4 separate regions of the Homo sapiens genome follow, and regions 1, 2 and 3 are each linked to region 4. Evidence: fine-mapped expression QTL. A gene starts in region 4. Each other region holds a variant in brackets. All regions are shown on one strand. Distances are from middle to middle. Region 1 overlaps LOC124904421 (a long non-coding RNA gene). Region 2 overlaps S100A10 (S100 calcium binding protein A10). Region 3 overlaps THEM4 (thioesterase superfamily member 4). Region 4 holds the start of THEM4 (thioesterase superfamily member 4).

Region 1 (5,473 bases), 24 kb before region 4:
TTTATTACCTCATTCCAAAGAGAAAAATATATTGTGGCCAGGCACGGTGGCTCACGCCTGTAATCCCAACACTTTGGGAGGCTGAGGCAGGCAGATTGCTTGAGCTCAGGAGTTCGAGACCAGCCTGGGCAACATGTCAAAACCCCGTCTCTACAAAAAATACAAAAATTAGTTGGGCATGTTGGTGTGCGCCTAGCTACTTGGGGAACTAAGGCGAGAAGATTGCTTGAGCCTGGGAGGTCGAGGCTGCAGTGAGTTATGTTCATGCCACTGCACTCCAGCCTGGGTGCGAGACCGTCTCAAGGAAAAAAAAAATTGTTAAGTGCTCTACAACCCTTGTGATACCAGAAACCAAGGGAATATAAGTAATAGTCTTGTGATAATCTCCCGTTCTTTATTCTCCCCACTTTGTTTTCCCCAGCCCTCTCCATGATGAAGATGGCTGCAGTTTCCGTGGTTTCTGCTATGGAATGAAAAATCCTACAGGCAGAGCCCATGCTTCCTGCAGCTGCCAGCTCTGCCCTGCCTCCTTCCCCTCCCAGCTCCCCTGTGAGAAGCACTATCCTCAGAATGACTCAACCTCATTTTCCAGGAGGGTCTTAGAACTCATTGTACTTTTTTCTTGCAACCGTAAATTTTCTGCAGTTTGTTCACCTAAAGACTTTTCACATGACAGGTTTCTATGTCTTAGAACCTACTTTCTCTGATCCTAATCCCACTCAGGGGAGGACACAAATATTGCACTTCAGTCACTTTTAATGTGTCTGCTGTACAATACCACCTGGCAGAGTACCCAAAAAGCAACAACTCAAAATCTAGCCCACCAGATATTCCATGAGATTTGATGGTGATGAGCACTGCAGTCCAGGGTTCAAGGAAAGCTAGGATGGGTATTCCTCATGGTAATTTCTGAGCAACTTTGAGTCACTCAACGTATTTCATTGTCTTCTAGGCGTATTTAGTCTTTCTATTGAATGTAAGAACTGGACAGAGAGGTGGGGAGCATCTTATCGCTCACTTTGCAAAAGAGGAAACAGCTCTGAGGTCTCATTTTACGTATCTATTGACTATTTTATACTCAGTTTGGAAACAAAATGATAAATAATAGAGCAATCTATCACTTTGTAAAATCTAGAAGACTAAGCTTTGAAGTTCTTCCAAGTCCCTAATTAGATAATAGTCATCACTTAAAGAATAAACTGTTAGGTATTGAGATAGATATAACCTGTTCATTTATTGACGAATATCAGCCTAAAAGTTTACCAGGAAATAATTTAAAATGTATAAAATCTTCCTAATTACTCAAAGGAAATTTATAATAGTCAAAAATTTTACCTACTAACCAAAAATCCAGAAGATTCAGGACAAAAATAAATGGAAGAATAGATAATTATCTAAATACACTTGTGGAGGTCAGAATAATGGGCCCCCAAAAAGGTCCAAGTAAGTCTCTGGAGTCTGTGAATACGTTACCACACATGGCAAAAGGGATTTGCAGATGTGATTAAGTAAGGATCTTGAGATGGGAAGATTATCCTGGATTACATGGGCAGGCCCAATGTAATAACAAGGGTGTAGGGTGCAAGGAAGAAAGGTGCGGAAGAGTTACAGAAAATGGGACGACAGAAGCAGAGGTAGTTTTACAATTGCTGGCTGAGGGACCAAGCCAAAGAATGTGGGCTCCCTCTAGAGGCTGGAAAAAGGAAGAAAACAGATTCTTCCCTAGAGCCTCTAGGAGTACAGCTCTGCTGACACCTAGATTTCAGCCCCCTGAGACCCACTTCAAATTTCTGACCTCCAGAACTGTAAAATAATAAATTTGTGTTGCTTTAAGCCATTAAGTTTGTAATAATTGTTATAGCAACAAGAGGAAACTTATACACACTCTTTTGGCTCTTTCGGGTTAATGTGCAGTTTTGGTGACAACATACTGATCAAAATTGTCAACAAATTATGTGATCTCCCCCTTGTGTATAGTCAGTGGTATTATAAGGTAATTTCAAAAGAAATGGAAGAAAAAAGTTTTTTAAATAAATGGAAAACAGTTACTATTAATATAGTCTGATTGGAAAGGTTAAAACCACTTGGAAAGGTTAAAACTTTATGGAACATATAGCTGCAAACAGTTCCACACAAAAACAAAAACAAAAAAGGCTACAAGAAATCTGGTGCTATTCCCAATGCCTTTCTACACTAGCTGGTGAAATGTCACAGTTGTCAGTGGACTATTACCCATGTTTAAAGCCCATCTCTCCTCTTGCAGAGAACCCAGACTTAGAATCTCAAGCAAAACAATGGCTTGCATTTGAGAAAGAATGTCTAATAAGAAAACATTTATATTGTTGGTGCTGCCTCTCAATATCTATCAAAAAACTTTATGCAAGATTATCTGAAGTATATATAAGTCACAGTACATGTTTCTCTGAGGCCAGATTACCAGAAAGCTGAATAACTGTACTATATTGTTTTGCCCCCTCTGCTGGGTCGCCTCCATTCCCTTTGAATTTCTTTCACTGAAATTTGATGCCATCAGCTTAATTAAGAGACATTACATGGTTTAGCCCTGTGAGACTTTTGTTGTCTTTACAGTTAGGATTCTTTGAGGTTGTTATTTGTTGTATTACATAGAATCCCCTCCATGAAAACCCTTGCATAAATCCATGTGTTAAGGTGTCTGTACCAGAAACAGGTAAGCCGCTTCTAAGCAGAGGGTCATTCTTCTTTTTAACGCTCACAGAAATATAATACACATGGCACTACACAGCTGTCAAAAGCTATGGAACTATACAACAAAAAGAATGAGCCCTAATGTAAGTTAAGGACTTTGGTTAAAATATCACTGCTGGCTCATCAATTGTAATAAATGCACTACACTAACGCATGACATTGATAATAGAAGAAGCTGTTTGGGTTTGAAGAGGGTAGGGGTAAATAGTAATTCTCTGTACTTACTACTCAGTTTCTCTGTGAAACTAAAACTGCTCTAAAAAATAAAGTCTATTAATTTAAACATATATATGTATATATATATACACATATATATGTATATATATACACAAAAGCATATATACATATATATGTGTGTGTATATATATATATATATATATATATATATATATATATATATATGCACACACAAAAAGCAAAGTACACTGTAGCATAGTAGATTCTGGGAAGATGGCAGCAGCAGGGGCAACAGCATAGGTGTTCAATCTTTCCTAATCCTAACACAAAAACAAACGAGCAACTTGCTATTGTCTGAATGTT[A/T]GTGACTCCCCTGCCCCCAAAATCCACATATAGAAAACTAACTCCCAAGGTGATGATATTAACAGGTAGGGCCTTTGGGAAAGGATTCTATCATGAGGGTTCTGCCCTTGTGGGTAGGATTAGTGCCCTTGTAAAAGAAGCTCAAGAGAGCCTGTTCACCCCTTCTGCCATGTGAGGACACATGGAAGGCACTACCTATGAAGAACAGGCCCTCTCTAGTCACTGAGTCTGCCAGTGCCTTGACCTTGAACCTCTCAGCCTCCACAACTGTGAGAAATAAATTTCTGTTGTTGGTAAATTACTCTCTCTAAGGTATTTTGTCATAGCAGCCTGAACAGGCTAAGTCTCAACTAGATAGCAAAACCAAACCCTACAGACATTTACAAAAAAACAAATGACAAAGTATTCCCACGAGCCTCAAAATACAAACAAGTGGGGACAAACCAGCAGTCACAAAACTTGCATGGTTTCTGCATCAGTGTGTGAGGAAGAAGAATGAAGAAATGGAGACAGTGTCTGATGGACCTGAGAACTCTCCAACAGTAATAGGTATGGAAGACACAGCTGAAAAGGGAAAGATCTGATCTCTCCAATAGGAGGTAAGTACAAGAGGCCCACAGTAAGGACTTAAGAGGGCTGGAGCAGTCTGGCCCCTATGAACTCAAAATTCATTTGCCAAGGCTCCCTTCCAAGACAGGGACCCATGCTAGGGAGAAACTACAGGGAATGCAGTTTTTAAAAATGAGGAGTACAAGGACAAGAGAGATGATCCAAAGAGAAGGTCTTTATCCAAGTTAAAGAGAACAGCCTGGAATCTCAGAAAGCAAGCTTCCACGCCAGACGCGGTGGCTCACACATGTAATCCCACCACTTTGGGAGGCTGAGGGTGGGTGGATCACTTGAGGTTAGGCATTCAAGACTATCCTGACCAACATGGTGAAGCCCCTTCTCTACCAAAAATGCAAAAATTAGGTGGGCGTGATGGCACACACCTGTAATCCCAGCTACTCAGGAGGCTGCGGCAGGAGAATCTCTTGAACCCAGGAGGTGGAGGTTGCAGTGAGCCGAGATCATGCCACTGCACTCCAGCCTGGGTGACAGAGTGAGACTCCATCTCAAAAAAGAATAAAATAAATCAAATAAATAAATTATCTTGTGAAAGTTATGCCAAATAGTAGAATGGCTCTAGATTACTAACTGGCTAAACAGAAAAGTATCTGTGCAGTTGCTGGCACTTCTTGTTGCCCTTGGAGAAATACATAGAGTATTATAAAGACTCAGTTATAGGGGATTAATAAACAGGCTGCTTGGTTAAAGTGAGTAGACTATTAATCTAACTCATTATTTGATCTATTTGATTTTAGTTGGTTTGGTTCATGGGGACCCTGGCTAAGGAGCATACACCAAACTCTTGGCATTATCCTTTTGATAGTCATAATAGTAGTCTCCCCGGTCTGCCGTATTCCCTCAAAACTTTTAGATATTTGCATGCAGCCATCTCTAGAGTGTTAAATGGTCTCTCTTCCACTAGAATGAGAAGAGCTGAGAGAAATGTGTGACCATGAGGGCACTGTAACCTATGAATGACATGCTGAGAATGAAAACCCAAAATGATGGTAACTGAGAGTAGCGTTAAGGCTCTAAGTTTTGGTTATACTCTCACCTAAGGGAGAACCTGACCAAAAGCGGGGAGTTTTTAAACAAAATTATGAGTGGCCATTGTTTTGGACTGAGCTCAGGCTCTAGGCCCCAACAAACCAGATCAAACCAAAGTGGAATAATTCATGCTAAATGTGACACATCAAACTAAGACTTTAAGAAACAGATAGATCCTAAAACAGACCAAGTTTTATTTTTCTCCTGTAAACAGAAGATTCCAGCATGAGGAGGTATCCTCTACTCTAACCCTTACCAAAAAAATAATCTGAAGTTCTTGTTCCCACCTTACAAAACCCACTGGTCTGCTATTTATCAGTGGGTTTGAAGACCAAATAAGTACATTTATGATGGTGACAATGACTAAAGTTTTGGTCAATTTCTCAAAATTGAGAAGATGACCAAAATAAGGAAACTGTTAAATCAAGTTTAGCCTAAAGCTGCCTCCTTCCATATTTTAAGTTCTCCCTAAAAGTTTCTCTGTACACAGTATACTATAACCTAAATGGAGGTTAAACAGATTGTAACCTACTCTCCTGACAATCACAGA
Region 2 (5,473 bases), 71 kb before region 4:
TTCCAAATTTGAGACAGAATGTTTGTTGTTCCCTCAGAAATTCTTGTTCCCCAAGAGGCAGCTTGCCCTTGGGCAGCCAGCACACAGCAGAGCTTTTCTTACACAGCAGAGCTTTTCTCACAGAACTGGCAAAATGAGAAAACACTCTTCATTCAGGCTTGGAGTCTGACTTCTCTAATTGTTCTGCCCTTGTAGCTGTGTCTATATGAAGGACTCAAACTTGAAGGATTAGGAGAAGGCTCTACAGGAATAGATGGTAAGTTTATAATTACTGGGCACAGTTTTGCCCAGTTAAATCAGTGCTTTTCTAGCCAGCACTTTGCATGCCTGCAATGTCTGAATCCAATTTTCATAGCAAAGTGTCAGCAAACCTAAGGCAGAACTAGGAGAACCAATCAGGAGAGGGTGTAGCTTGACACCTTGGTAATAACATCACATTAGCATCTATTAAGTCAACTCCCAGATGTCAGGAAATATGGTAGGCATGACTTATACACGGGGCAGTACACTTTTGTTGAAAATGAAGTGTCAGTACTGATGTCTTGATAATCAATGCAAAATGTTCCTCCTAGCCCTTTTTTGTGCCTGTTAGAAGCTTCAGGGTATATGTGCATCAATGCTATATGCTTATTAATAACACAGTACTCTATGCTTTTATGGAGAGGTGATATATGAATTCCATGAATTGGCACATAGCATTGTTCCAAGTAAATAGGTCAAAGAAGATGGAATATTTACTTTTTTTTTTTTTTTTTGAGACGGAGGCTTGCTCTGTCACCCAGGCTGGAGTGCAGTGGTGCAATCTCGGCTCACTGCAAACTCCACCTTCCCAGGTTCACACCATTCTCCTGCCTCAGCTTCCCGAGTAGCTGGAACTACAGGCGCCTGCCACCATGCCCAGCTAATTTTTTGTATTTTTAGTAGAGACGGGGCCTCACCGTGTTAGCCAGAATGGTCTCGATCTCCTGACCTTGTGATTTGCCCGCCTCGGCCTTCCAAAGTGCTGGGATTACAGGCGTGAGCCACCGCGCCCGGCCTGGAATATTTACTTTTTTGATTGGACACATCAATATTAACTCTGGGAAAAACTTCCATCTCACTCTGGGAAAAAGTGCAATATAAGGTTATCGATAGTCACAAGGAAAAGCATGCAAAAGAGAACAGGATAGTTCAAAACTGGCTTTGGTAGAAAGAAATCCATAATAAAAAAGGAAAACATTCCAACCATTTTATTTTTTCTCAGTCAACAAATGAACAGTGTAAAACAAACCATAGCTTTGCGGCTGAAGCATTATATCAGCAAGTTTACAAAGAGGAATTTATTACGGGAGTATTAATGAAGGAGGGGAGTTGATTAGTTAAAGAAGTGACTCTAGATTGACTCCAGGAATGACTTCCAAACCCATGCTACAGAACTGGGCCGCCAAGGAGCTGCTGGCTCAGGAAGCTGCCTGCTGAATGAGGAGCCATAGCCACAGCTGGCTGCTCCAGGACCATGGCACAGTCTGCACAAGCAAACGCACATCCCCATCACCCTCCCTCTTTCCACATACGGCTGGGCTCTCATATCCAAGTCTCAGTGAGGTGCATCTGACTGGCAGAGCCTTAACCACAACAAATTCCTAACCGCAAGGGACTCTGGGAAATAAAGTTCTAACATTTTCCAACCTTTGCACATTAGCAGCTGATTCTACCACAGTGACAATTCCTAATCCTACGTGAAGTCTTCCAACCTGGAAGTTAAAGAAATTGTGGCTCTAAGGAAAGGAGGCTCTGGAAGATGACGTCTGTAATAGAGACAAGAAAAAAAAACTGGCCCATCACAGTAAGGCAATCCATGAGAATTTGTGTCAGTCCAGATTCACCCCTTTGGTTAACCTGCCTCCTGGGCAACTGTGTTTACTGGGTATTAGGAGGATTAGTGGTCAACTCACAAATGAATGGGGAAGATTATAAAAGGGAGATATTATGAGCTCACATGTCCTGAAATCCATAGCAAACTTTCACACTCTAAGCCTCTTTTACCTGAAAACAAAAACACAACTATCCCAGGAGGAGGGAGGCTCTCAGGGTAAGAGAAAGGAAGCATCAACTCATCTTCACAGTGGGTGTGTAGATTCAGAAAAATTCTGAAGCAATGTGTTATTCCCAGCAGATTACCCCAAACTCTCATTCAGAAGGTGCCCAGTGCCAGGAAATGATCTGAGTCACTGTATTTGGGATGGATGTGTATGTGTATTGAGGGAAAGGGTTATGGCACCTTCCTCGCTTTGGCCTCATTGCTCATTTAGTAGGGAGCTGTATGAGGAAAATAAAAATGGTATTTATGGCTTGAAATCCCACATGGCTCTTTGTGCCAACAAAAACACACGGATCCCACAATCTGACCTGCTAAAACTGCTGTCTAGGCTTCAGGGGTTGCAGCCCAATGGCTCCCAAGGGGCAAAACTGCCATTATGCCAACAGTCATCAAGAGGAACCATCTGGAAAATTCCACTCATTCTGCTACATGGCTGAGTTGTAAAAAGTAGATCCCGCCCCTCCCCACACCCAGTTACAAAAAAAGAATGAATAGCAGTGCAGAAAGTCAGTTTCCAACACGCTGCAGAGCTGACCCTGAAAAACATCATTTTTCTCTCTTGGACCCACTCCCTTGTCCAAGTCCCCTGAACAGCGGCCAACTACCTGTGATTTAATAGTTTTCTACCTAACCCATCTCACTAGGAGACCGAGGACAAGTCTACAAACCTCTCTCATTCAAATTTGACCAATTCGTGATTGGTCAAGTAATTGTTCAAGTCCCTTCTCCAGCTCTTAACCCCACAGGGATAGTTGTGAATAGAAAT[T/C]CATTCACTTGGCAAATATTAGCAAGGGCTACCATGTGAATGGCACCAAGCAATGTTCTGTATAAAGGCAGGTACGAAGAAGCAGATGACCACAGTGCCTGCTCAAGAAGATTACAATCTAGATTGAAAGATAATAGATAAAGCAGGCCAGGCGCGGTGGCTCACGCCTATAATCCCAGCACTTCGGGAGGCAGAGGCGGGCGGATCACGAGGTCAGGAGATCGAGACCACGGTGAAACTCCGTCTCTACTAAAAATACAAAAAATTAGCTGGGCGCAGTGGTGGGCGCCTGTAGTCCCAGCTACTCGGGAGGCTGAGGCAGGAGAATGGCGTGAACCCGGAAGGCGGAGCTTGCAGTGAGCCGAGATCATGCCACTGCACTCCAGCCTGGGCGACAGAGCGAGACTCCGTCAACACAACAGAGCATTGGCAAGGGAGACATGTGATGGGCACCTCTGGTCACTGTTGATAGGTATGTAATTCACACGACCTTTCAGAAAGGCAAAAGTTAGCAATATGTACCTGAATCCTTTAATGTGTTTTCTTTGACCCAGTATTTCTATTCCTAAGAATTTCTCTTAGCAAAATAATCAAAGATACTTATGATATTCATATACAAAGCTATTTGATGCAGCATTATTTAGAATAGCTAAAACCTAAAGAAAACCTCAATATTCAACAATGGGGTCATGGTTAAATAAGTTATGTTTAGATTGTTTAGATGTACATGGGATGCTATATGGCCCATCAAAACCATCACTTTGAAAAATATTAAATGAGATGGGGAAATGTCTATGTAAAGTAAAGCAGACTGCAAAATTGGTATATAATCGGATTCCTTTCTTTTCTAAATATGCGTGTCTGCTTGAGTGCATGCCTGCAAAGACACACACACACACAGAGAGAGAGAGAGAGAGAGAGCAAGAGTGAGAGCAAGAGCAAGCGAGCGAGAGAGAGAGAGAGAGAGAGAGAAACTAAAGGGAATACACCCAGCTGTATTTAGTTTCCAGAGTAGGAGTTACTGGCCAGGGAAATTGTTGCTCCAGAAAGACGTTTATGAGACTATTGTAATTTTCTTTATATACAGTGCTATATTATCTTAATTTTCTATGCAATTCCTTCCTAGCCCACCTACATGCACTTGCACTTTCACAATCCATAAAATTTTAAATAATATATTTTGAAAGAGCCTGTGTATTTATTGAGGGTCTACCATGAGTCAGGACCTGTATGAGATACTTTTTAAGCATTTATCTTACTTGGACCTCACAATAACCCTGTGAAGGTATTATAACATCCATTTTACAGATGACAAAACTAAGACTTAAGTAACTCCCTCAAAGTCCCACAGCACTTATTGTTTCAAGATTTAAACCCAGATATCAAGATAGTCTCCTTCCTTCCTTCCCTCCTTCCTTCCTTCCCTCCTTCCCTTTCTTTCCTTTTTTTCTTTTTCTTTTTTCTTTTTTAGAGTAAAGTGAAAAGCAAGGAAAGGAATAAAGAGTGGCTACTCCATAGGCAGAGCAGCTTGTATTCTGCAGTTGTCTCAAGGGGCTATTTGAGTAAATTAACTATCAACTGTGTTATTCTTTCAAAAAAGTAAGAGATTTCGTGGGTTAGATGAGGCTAGTCAGATAAGATTTTGTGTAAGAGATAAGATGTTATCTGGTCTTTGAAGATTGGAAGAAATTTAGATTTGGATACCAGCTAACATTGAGTTCTTACTACATTGCAGGCTCTGTTCTAGTGCTTCACAAGTATTAACTCGTTTGTTCCTCCCAACAACTATGAAGTAGGTACTATTACTGTTCCCACTTTACAGGTGATTTGACCAAGGTGGAGGCAGGATTTGAACACAGGTGGTCTAAGATTTTAGCCACTCTTCTCTGCTGCATCCCTGGACGTAGTAATGATGGAGCAAAGGAATGTCCAGGACACAGAAAACTCAGGAGGCCACGTAGAATCCAGCATGTCTAAAGTGGTGTATGCTCACTGCAGAAAGTGTGTGTAGGTGGGATAGGACAGGCAGGAGGTGTTAAAGGAATGATAAATGGAAAGAATAAAGGATATGTTGTGGGTGAGTTTGCTCAATAAAAATCTCTACAGGTCCTAGGTTTGGGTTATTACTACTCCTTCGGGAAAAAGAGGTGGCCCTCGTCTAAAAGGAGACAATCAGACAGTATGTTCTTGTGAATGTTCAACCCACTTTTCTCCATTGCTCACATTCCAATCACATTCTGGCTACAAAAGATAAAACAGGGATGGGATTCACTTTTATCTTTCTGAGAAGCTCTAAGTACAGAGGAAAAAAATTTGACCTCTGGCAAGTCATGCCAAAATTGAGAGGGAAAAAAATCAAGATGATAGGGCCACAGCGTCTAGGTGAGAAAAGCCTCTGATAGAACATTAGCTCATCTAGTTTCCCACTGAGATTCCAACTCATCTGAAAAACGGTATGTTCACTCTAATGGTAGCTACTGTATATTTTTTTAAATGCATGAAAGTGGGAATTAGCCAGGCGTGGTGGCGCATGCCTGTAATCCCAGCTACTTGGGAGGCTGAGACAGGAGAATCGCTTGAACCCAGGAGGGGCAGGTTGCAGTGAGCCAAGATCATGCCACTGCACT
Region 3 (5,473 bases), 22 kb after region 4:
CATTTTTTATTTTCTGTAAATTGCATTTAAACCACAGTTCTTCCAAGAAGGATTTCCGTCTTTACCGTACCATTTTATTCAGTATATTGTTAGCGTTTATATACTATATTCCTGATTGCCATGTGTGGGTACTTCATTTTGATTTCATGTCTGTTTACTCTGTCCCCAGTTGGACTGTTAATTCCACAAGGGCAAAGATCCTATCTTCTGTTTCATTGAGACGCTCCCATTCCTTTCAATTTTGCACCCTGTGGACATTTGAATCAATCATCTATTGACATGTGATTCTAGCAGGGTACAGGTGCTTGGCTCTGCCATGGCATTTCTCTCACCCTTGTTTCTCATTTGCCATCCACCTCATTTTCTATAGACCCAAAGCTTATGAAAGAAGAACAAATGTCACAGGCCCAGCTCTTCACCAGAAGCTTTGATGATGGCCTGGGCTTTGAATACGTGATGTTCTACAATGACATTGAGAAAAGGATGGTTTGCTTATTTCAAGGAGGCCCTTACCTGGAAGGACCACCTGGGTAAGAATGATAGCCTGAAAGTGTGGATCTAAAAGATTTTTATCTTACACTGCCCCCATGTGTCCTGTACATGGACTACAATAAAGATTTTCAAATGGTCACATAGATGTATATTTATTGACATGGAAAGATGTTTATAATACATTATTAAAGGACATCTTATCTATATTATTAATATTGATTAAATATTTTTATATATGAGCATTATAATATTATAGGGCATAGGGCAATAGAGTATAATTTGAGAGCATATCATTAATGTGTTAACAGTGGCTTGTCACTGACTAGGTGGGTAGTATTATGGGTCCTAAATTTTTTTCTTTTTTTTCATATTTGCATTACCTACATTTCTAAACAATGAATATGTATAGTTTGTTTTGTTTTGTGAGACAAGGCCTTGCTCCTTTGCCCAGGCTGAAGTGCAGTGGCATAATCATAGCTCACTGCAGCCTCGAACTCCTGGGCTCAAGCAATCCTCTCACCTCAGTCTCCCGAGTAGCCAGAACTACAGGCACATGACACCACACTTGACTAATAATAAAAACATAATATAAATTTTCTAAATTACATTTTAGCTTTTTGCTTGCTTGCGATCTGGTTACTATTAAGTTCTGGTTTTATTACAAATACTTAAGACTATATTATTATGCTGTGAACAAAACAAAGTTGGGGACATAGATAGTATTTGGCATTCAGTACACTGAACATGGGCTAAGTGGACCTTTCATAAGTAAATAGTGTGAAGATGCTTGGATAATTTTTCTCTTTCAAGAGGCTCTCTATCTTCAGAACTTCTGAAAACATTTCTCCTCCACTCCTGTTGTAACTAGATTCATTCATGGAGGTGCCATTGCAACCATGATTGATGCTACTGTTGGTATGTGTGCAATGATGGCTGGGGGAATCGTCATGACTGCCAATCTCAACATCAATTATAAAAGGTAAATTCACAGTAATTCTCTATTTATCCTTAGGTGTTGTTAAGTCAGGTTCCCAGTTGCAGATCTTGACACCATAATTTGTGTTCAAGTGATTATTAAGGAAGTGCTCCCAGAGGAGACTAGCAAGGGAGTGGGAGAAGCAGGACGGGGAAGATGAAGAAGTGTCAACCAAGGCTGAACTCTCAAAAGTCCAGCAAAGCATAGCTTTAGCCAGATCATACAAGAGAGCTCTAGAATGAAATTTATGCCTCAGAATTGTCTCCATCTCAGATGAGGGAGCTAGAGTCTTTATACTCTCGCATGTATTGGTCATAGGATCAGGGCCATCCCAGGGACCATAAATTTCCAAGTACTTCTAAGGGTCTCTGTGTTTGAGCAAAGCAGACTCTAGAGAAAATAACCAAAACAAGTGAAGAAAGGATCCAAGGGGCTCTGGGTGGAGCACCAACATCTACTACATAACAAAATTAATTTTTTAAAAATTTAGCTGGGCCCAGCAGTGCACGTCTGTAGTCCTAGCTTCTTGAGAGGATTGCTTGAGCCCAGGAGTTCAAGGCTACAGTGAGCTAGGATCATGCCACTGCACTCCAGGGTGGGCAACAAGACCCCAACTGTAAAAAAAACAACAACAACAAAAACACACACACACACACAAAACACCGAGTCTTTTCAGTCCACAGGCACAGATGTCTTTCCATTTATTTGTGTCTTTAATTTTTTTCATCAATGTTTTGTAGTTTTCAGTGTATAAGACTTTTGCTCTTTGGTTAAGTTTATTCCTATGTATTTTATTCTTTTTGATTTTTTTATTTTTAATTTTTTTATTATTATTATTATTATTTTGAGACAAAGTCTCACTTTATTGCTCAGGCTGGAGTGTGGTGGCATGATCTCAGCTCATTGCAACATCCACTTCCCAGGTTCAAGCTATTCTCATGCCTCAGCCTGCCAAGTAGCTGGTATTACAGGCATGCACCACCACAGCTGGCTAATTTTTTGTATTTTCAGTAGAGACAGTGTTTCACTTTGTTGGCCAGGCTGATCTCAAACTCCTGGCCTCAAGTGATCCGCCTGCCTTGGCCTGCCAAAGTGCTGGGATTACAGATGTGAGTCACTGCACCTGGCCTTAATTGTTTTCTTAATTTCCTTTTTGGATTAGTCATTGTTTGTGTATAGAAATGCAACTGCTTTTTCTGTGTTGATTTTACATCTTGCAGCTTTGCTGAATTTGTTTATTCATTCTAACAGGTTTTTGTGGAATCTTTAGGATTTTCTATATACAAAGTCATGTCATTTGTAAACAGATCTTTGTACTTCTTCCTTTCCAATTTGAATACCTTTGATTTCTTTTTCTTGCCTAATTGCTCTGGCTAGGACTTCTAGTACCATGTAGAATAGAAGTGGCAAAAGTGGGCATCCTTGTCTTGTTTCTGATCTTAAATGAAAAGGTTTTAGTCTTTTACCATTCAGCATGATGTTAGTTGTAGGGTTTTCATAAATAGCCTTTATTATGTTGAGAGAGTTTCTTTCTATTCCTAGTTGTGCCTTAGATTTTTAACCTTTAAACCCAGATTGTCATTGTACCTCCTTTTAACAATTTTAATAGCAATTACATTGATTCTAGAGATTAATTTGGGGAAAGTTGACATATTTACAGATGGTCAATATTTCATATTAGTTATAACTATAAATTAGATT[C/T]TAGAAATCTGGGTTTTCTTAACATGTTAAAGAATATATTAAAAATTAAATTTTTTATATTTTTCCATGTCCCATGTTTTTAAAAATATTTTTCCATGTTCAAATAAAGTTGAATAATGAAGTATAACATCGTTCCTAAAAAAATAAATGTAAACGGTTACTTTGAAAACAAGCTGAAACAAAGTATTTAGATTGCTGTTTATCTCAAAAAGTGTTTGTGTCTTAAGCACATACTCAAATGCAAAATGGGAAACAGAACCTGCCAAACTCTATGCTTAGTGTTTGTCCCACCCAATAAACCATCCACAAAAATCAGTTGCATTGCTGTTCATTTGTTCCCCACAATTGGAAAACATACTGAAAAGAAGTTTTACCTGAAGTCATATGGATAGAGAGCAATTTAGTCAGAATTAGAACTCACATCTTATGACACCAAATCTGATGCTCTTCACTACAACACACAGCCTCCATTGTCTTCTGTTAGTTGATGACTAAAGACCAGAATAAAGTATTGGATTTTATAAGTAGTTTAGAATTTAATATTTATCACTCTCTGTTTTTTTGTATACAGTTATTTAGGTTCATAATAATAGTAATAATATTAAATTTAATATGATTACTTGACAGTCCTTCAAGATGCTACAGGTAACAACCTGGGATTATATTTTAATTGAAAATAATTTGCAGTGTCAATTAATCATCAGATGCCTTAATCTACCTTACTTCCTTTAAGAAGCAAGATTATTCCTTAATGATTTCAAATAATTTCCAGCCCTCTGATCCAAATATCCCACTTGATTTATTTCCTTGTGCCTAGCACATTAAGATAAATAGACAAAGCAGGTCAAACTAGTGATGACAAGCCAGCTGAAAGGGTAAATATCTCAGCATGCCAATGACCCATTCATGACACATGAGTTGAGAAGCTCCTGATTCGATTTCTTCATGCAACATGGCAAACAAGAAATGCTAAAGGACATTCCTCCTTCAAAACAAGTAGATCCTGTACCAAATACACAAGGAAAGAAACTACCAAGGGTGACTATCAACAGAAACAATAAATAAGATTTAGACCTCAGGGATCTAAGATATGATGATAATCAAATACACAATATAAATGAATAAAGTATGAGATGTTTAAAGAAATAAAAGATGAGGCTGGGCACAGTGGCTCACGCCTGTAATCCCAGCACTTTGGGAGGCCAAGGCGGGTGGATCACCTGAGGTCAGGAGTTCAAGACCACCCTGGTCAACATGGCAAAACCCTGACTTTACTAAAAATACAGAAATTACCCAGGTGTGGTGGCACGTGCCTGTAATCCCAGCTATTTGGGGGGCTGAGGCAGAAGAATCGCTTGAACCTGGGAGATGGAGGCTGCAGTGAGCCAAGATTGTGCCACTGCACTCCAGCCTGGGCAACAGAGCGATACTCCATCAGAAAAATAAATAAATAAATAAATAAATAAATAAATAAATAAATAAATAAATAAAAGATGAAATCACAAAAAGAGAAAACAATGATAAACTATAAAAATTATTAGGCAGGTTTGCCACAGAACCTAATAAAACTTTGAGAAATGAGATTGTAGGCCGGGCATGGTGGCTCACGCCTGTAATCCCAACATTTTGGGAGGCTGAGATGGGCAGATTACAAGGTCAGGAGTTTGAGACTAGCCTGACCAACATGGTGAAACCCCGTCTCTACTAAAAATACAAAAATTAGCTGGGTGTGGTGGTGCGCACCTGTAATCTCAGCTACTTGGGAGGCTGAGGCAGGAGAATCACTTGAACCCAGGAGGCAGAGGTTGCAGTGAGCAGAGATTGCACCATTGTACCCCAGCCTGGGCGACAGAGTGAGACTCCATCTCAAAAAAAACAAAAAAAAAACAAAAAAAAGGAAATGAAAGTGTAATTGTTTAAAAACAAAAAAATACCTCAGTGAATAGGTTAAAGGACTATTTAAACACAGCTGAAAGTGAACAGAAATATAGAACTGAAGAAATTACCCTGATAAGATGGTATGCTGGTAAAGGTCAGAACATTTCCTCTGAATTTGCTAGAAACTCAAAAGCTGTGGAATGTCATTTCTTTCTCTCCATTTTCCTATTATAACTACCCCGCCTTGTGGGCAGTCTATATAGAAAGGTTTCTTTGATACCTGACTGATGTAAGAACAAGAGGGGTAAATGTGAATTCTTATGGATAGATAACACAGGAGTTACTTCTAAATATCACTCCACTGCAAGAATTTAAAAGAAAGCTTTAAAAATACACTCAATAGTTTTCTTGAAAAGGGAAAATGAC
Region 4 (5,473 bases):
GCCCGCTGCAGCCTCACAAAGTGCTGGGATTATAGGAGTGAGCCACTGCGCCCGGCCTTAATTTTTGTATTTTTAGCAGAGACGGGGTTTCACCATGTTGGCCTGGCTGGTCTCAAACTCCTGACCTCAGGTGATCCACCCACCTCAGCCTCCCAAAGTGCTGGAATTACAGGTATGAGCCACGGTGCCCATCCTATGGCAACTACACCTCAATAAAGCTGTCTACAAAATTAAAGAATGGTGAGAAGACTATTAAGTTTCATACCATTGGCTTATTCGAAGCCTAGTTCTATCAAGATTGAACATTTGTTCCTTGCCTAAACCATACAAGCTTCAAACTCCTTCACTTCCATAGCCTATCAATCCTATTTCTAGACTGTAACCTGCCCTTCCTCTTCCAAATCTGACCAGACATTTTATATGTGCTGTCAACACGAATATCCCAGAGTAAGCCATGCAAGAGTGTGGATGACTTAACTAAATGCACTGCCGCTACTTGAAAAATTTAGAGTTAAAATTTAATGAAGTTTAAACTCAGTGTAACTGACCTCTAATTGCCCTAAGTCTAAGGTCTTTTAAGAAGCTGATAGGTGCCGAGTGCAGTGGCTCATGCTGGTAATCCCAGCACTTTGGGAGGCAGGCAGATCACTTGAGGTCAGGAGTTCAAGACCAGCCTGGCCAACAGGGTGAAACCCCGTCTCTACCAAAAATATAAAAATTAGCCAGATGTGGTGGCACGCGCCTGTAATCCCACCTACTCGGGAGGTTGAGGCAGGGAGAATCGCTTGAACCCTGGAGGCAGAGGTTGCAGTGAGCCAAGATCATGCCACTGCACTTCCAGCCTGGGCAACAGAGTGAGACTCCATCTCAAAAAAACAAAAGGAAGCTGTTAGGTGAGCTATTGGTACATTAATCATATAGACAATCTTAGCAGGGTTGAAGTCTATAGGTATTGATTGATTTGACTACACTGTAAATTGTAAATAGATGCAATTTTAAGTTACCTGAATAAACTTTTCTATTCATTAACAGTAGTCATCTCAATTTTAGAGATTTACGTTATGCTCGTGCCTCCATCTGCACGCACAACATGGGAAGACAACAGACACCAAAGATACTTTGGATTCTTGCTGCTAAGTAAGTATTCAAGCACTACGTGCACGTTGTTACAATTAATAAGGCAATCTGACCCCATCCCTGCCACCAGGAAACTGCAATACTATTAATATATTAAAAAGGAAGACAACTGAGATAAAGGGAATGTGGGAGGTTGGGGGGGGTGCTTAGGAGATATCAGAATACAACCTCTTAGAATTACAGAATCTCAACAACCATCCTTTATGCCTGATCTTCGGTTCAGTAGCTCTAGGATTCCAAGGGGCCCCTCCTAACTGCATTGCCTTCTCTCCCCAATTCCCTTTCTCTCAGAATGTTACACCTTCCCCCAGTTAATAGTGTAGGCTTAAAATGTATCTAGGTGTTCTTACCTACTGACAAACTGCTGGAGTTGTTCATGGGAAAGGAATCAAGGCAAAATATCTAATGCATTCAGGTCATTCGAGTTTTCTTTTTAATTTATTGCTTTTTTGAGATGGGGCATCAGTATGTTGCCCAGGCTGAAGTGCAATAGCAGTATCTCTGCGAGACTCTGTCTCAAAAAAAACCCATTAGAGTCTTCACCTTAGGATGGACTAGGGCTATGGCATACTGGTAAGCATTTAAAAATAAAGGGGTATGATGGCCCGGATTTGCATTATCTGAGTAATGGGAATACTCCAACCCAGTCCGATTTCAAGGTCCCAGTGAGGTTACTGAATTCGAAGCTCAGAAGGTATGCGCCTAGTATTCCCACCATACGAATACAAGCGAGGTAAGTAACCTCAAAAGCATCGATAACAGTAAAATAGTTACAATACCTGTTACGCCTTTAGTATCCATTACCTTCGTTTAATTTAACTGTCAGTTTACATAACAAAAGAGTCTTTTAAGGCGTAAGCGCGCTCCTGGGGAGGGTATGGGGCTGTTGGCAGGGAAAGCAGCTTTTCGATCGTATAAATGCTCTTTGTGCCCAGACTGCCCTCTATAAATCAGCACTATCAACCCTGTCCAGAGACTTGCCCATGACCTCCAAGAAAACACTTTATTCATACTACTCCTAGCGTGCGCTCCTACCCGCCCCAGGGACTTCAGTCTTCCGGGGGAGGGATAACTACTTGGGGACACGGAGCACTGCGTACGCCCTGGGTCATGTGGGAAGGATGACCGCAAAGCCTCCAGTCGGCGCGCGGGTTCCGGGGCTGAGGGGCTGAGGGGCCCAAGGCGATAACCGGGATCCGCTCCGGCCGCGCTCCTCTTGCCTTTGAGAAGCCCCGGAAGTGGCCCGGCTGTTGGCCGCAGCGGGAGGTCTTCGGAAAGAAAAGGCCGGAACCAGAAGATAGACTCAACAGCGATGCCCTACCCGGACCCCGCCGGCCTCACACCCCGGCCAGCCAGCCGCCAGTAGTGCGCACCGCCTCCTCCCCAAGCCCCGCCCTGCGTCCACCCCAGGGGTTAACTCGCACGCGCGCTCTTGTGGCGGAGGTAGAGTGCGCCGTCCAGGGCTAGAGCAAGCGCGGCCCCGCGGCCCGGAGCCATGCTGAGGAGCTGCGCCGCGCGCCTCCGCACGCTGGGGGCTCTGTGCCTGCCGCCAGTAGGCCGGCGCCTGCCGGGAAGCGAGCCGCGACCCGAGCTGGTGAGTCTGGGCACCCTCGGGCATGGGGCGGGAGCAGGACTCAGAAACACGCCTGCGGTAACAGAGCCTTCGATTGTTATCCATACCCCAACCAGCCAATCTCAGAATAAAAGCTCACCTGGGCACCACAGGGCAGCATAAGCAACAGGGGCCTAGGAATACAGTCCTGAGATTCAAACCGTTAGAAAAGGGATGGAAAGGTGACCCCGTTTTTTTGTTTTTTAAGAGACAGGGTCGGCAGGGCGCTACCTGAACTGCATAATTTAGTCTGTCTATTTATATTTTGACAACATCTGTATTTTACCAATAATATTTGAGGCTGTTTTTATTTTTCAAAGATTAAAGTGACGTGAACTAAAAGATACCACAGCTTTTATCTTCCCTTTAAAAAAATATTTGATCCAAACGCTTATCTTCCTTTAGGTCAATTAATTAGAGATCTTTTTATAGACATCACACACAACACATATATAACTACACAGACAGGCAGAAGAAAACCCAGTTGCCATAAGATCTTTCATCACAGGGAGAGGGATCTATCTGCTTTTAATTCCTGGGGTTCCATGAGGAAAACAGAGATCGCCCCTCTTATGCAGGCATTAAAAGTGGCAAGGCAAAATGGAGAAAAATAACTCAGTCGACCGCAAAGAAACACTTTTTCCAGCAAAATAAGGTCCAAGAAAAGGAAAACATAAAGGCCTTATAAATATAATTACAACTTAGATATCTACTTTTAATTAAGCTGAGCACTCCTTAAGAAAATTCTTTTAACACCCTTATTATCTAACTTTAGCTCCACCAAGCGGCCAATATTTCTGGCTTTCAAACTTTACTTAAAGGCTCAGAGAAAGGAAAATCCAAGGTGGTTGGTGGAGGGCAGGGGAATCGACAAATAGCGAAAGGGCATACAGATACCAAACCAGAAAGGACTCATTCCCTAAGCCAGGATGAATCTGGGCCATGCCGGGCTAAACGAAGCTATGCAATGGGGTTACAGGCCACGCCCCCAAGGACGTAAAACAAGATGGAGGCCTGCAGCGAAGTTTGCTGTGGAGCATACAGAAAGACATGCAAAACACACAGATTGGCTACAGCTTACGACTTACCTCACAAATCCTTTCGCACAAAACTTTACAGAAAATATAAACGGTAATCCTCATCATTCCCAAAAGAGCAAAACGTCTTCCAAAAGGAAAAGAAAAACCTCCTTTAAAAGTATACTGCTGATGGGTTGGAGAGGAGATAAGGATGCCTGGGGGAAGAACCTCTTATTCCTATGCAAATGGTTCCTCCACCAGAGAGAGGAGCTTAATTGCTGTGGGACAGAGCTAGACTCCCTGGAATGGGGAGGGGGAGACTGCAGGCACCTGGTAGGGAACGCCAGCCAGCCATGCCGGCGCCTTGGAGCCTGGGCAGTGGCTGTGGCTCATTTATGCCCTGTGTGGCTACTGGACACCACACACACATGCTGCAGACACCACCATGCACCCCAGCCAGTAAAGAAGTGGGGCCAGGGAGCTACCCCACCCAACTGTCTTGTGAGTGCACTGGTGACCATTGGGGTGGGTGTGGACCACCTCCAGTATCGTAAAAAGAAAAATAGGTGCCGTTGCTGTCCCCCCAAAAAGAAGAGGAATGCCATAAGACCAAAAGGCTCAGAAATGAAAGTGAGAGGTTTTGAGTCCCCATTTCACTCATCCTTCTGTTGCAGGAATGAAGGAGGACTGGAGAGGCCATGGGGTGAGACAGGAGAACTTTATTGAGTGCACTCAGACCCAGCGGACTAACATCCAAAAGCTGGGCCCAGAACAAAGACAGCACTTGACTTTAATACACACTTTTAAAAGGGGGTGGGCTAGCTTGAAACAAGCTTACAGTGGCGTGAAGCATAGTGGCGTGAAAGCAAGGATACAGAGGCAGCACAAAGGCAATTAATTCATCAAATTGTGACAGGTGCATAATTCAGGATTACATACTGTGTCGGAATTGATGGGTTCTTGGTCTCACTGACTTCAAGAAAGAAGCCACGGACCCTCGTGGTGAGTGTTATAGTTCTTAAAGGCGGCATGTCCGGCGTTTGTTCCTTCTGATGTTCGGATGTGTTCAGAGTTTCTTCCTTCTGGTGGGTTCATGGTCTTGCTGGCTCAAGAGTGAAATTGCGGACCTTCGTGGTGAGTGTTATAGCTCTTAAGGCAGCACGTCTGGAGTTGTTCGTTCCTCCCGGTGGGTTTGTGGTCTCGTTGGCTTCAGGAGTGAAGCTGCAGACCTTCGCGGTGAGTGTTACAGCTCATAAAGGCAGTGTGGACCCAAAGAGTGAGCAGCAGCAAGATTTATTGCAAAGAGCGAAAGAACAAAGCTTCCACAGTGTGGAAGGGGACCCGAGCGGGTTGCCACTGCTGGCTTGGGCAGCCTGCTTTTATTCTCTTATCTGGCCCCACCCACATCCTGCTGATTGGTAGAGCCAAGTGGTCTGTTTTGACAGGGCCCTGATTGGTGCATTTACAATCCCTGAGCTAGACACAAAGGTTCTCCACGTCCACACCAGATTAGCTAGATACAGAGTGTCAACACAAAGGTTCTCCCAGTCCCCACCAGAGTAGCTAGATACAGAGTGTCGATTGGTGCATTCACAACCCCTGAGCTAGACATAGGGTGCTGATTGGTGTGTTTATAAACCTTGAGCTAGATACAGAGTGCCGATTGGTGTATTTACAGTCCTTTAGCTAGACATAAAGGTTCTCC

Evidence for each region. PIP is the estimated chance that this variant, and not a neighbour inherited with it, causes the effect.
Region 1: its variant is fine-mapped to the expression of THEM4 in whole blood (TOPMed, PIP above 0.99).
Region 2: its variant is fine-mapped to the expression of THEM4 in whole blood (TOPMed, PIP above 0.99).
Region 3: its variant is fine-mapped to the expression of THEM4 in whole blood (INTERVAL, PIP above 0.99).

The regions. Positions count from the first base shown.
Region 1 is chr1:151,930,402-151,935,874 of GRCh38, reverse strand. All of the region lies in intron 1 of LOC124904421 (a long non-coding RNA gene), which reads left to right. Among named protein-coding and RNA genes, the nearest start is that of THEM4, 24 kb to the right of the region's middle. RefSeq lists a silencer at 5,437-5,473. The variant A/T (reference allele first, on the strand shown) is at 3,268.
Region 2 is chr1:151,977,449-151,982,921 of GRCh38, reverse strand. S100A10 (S100 calcium binding protein A10) reads left to right here. Exons shown (of 3, transcript NM_002966.3): 3 at 1-7. Among named protein-coding and RNA genes, the nearest start is that of S100A10, 14 kb to the left of the region's middle. The variant T/C (reference allele first, on the strand shown) is at 2,847.
Region 3 is chr1:151,884,271-151,889,743 of GRCh38, reverse strand. It overlaps THEM4 (thioesterase superfamily member 4), which reads left to right. Exons shown (of 6, transcript NM_053055.5): 3 at 371-530; 4 at 1,361-1,471. Among named protein-coding and RNA genes, the nearest start is that of THEM4, 23 kb to the left of the region's middle. The variant C/T (reference allele first, on the strand shown) is at 3,170.
Region 4 is chr1:151,906,618-151,912,090 of GRCh38, reverse strand. It overlaps THEM4 (thioesterase superfamily member 4), which reads left to right and starts at 2,580. Exons shown (of 6, transcript NM_053055.5): 1 at 2,580-2,731. The coding sequence starts at 2,633. RefSeq lists enhancers at 1,608-2,195, 2,184-2,303, 5,295-5,473 and a silencer at 2,544-2,853.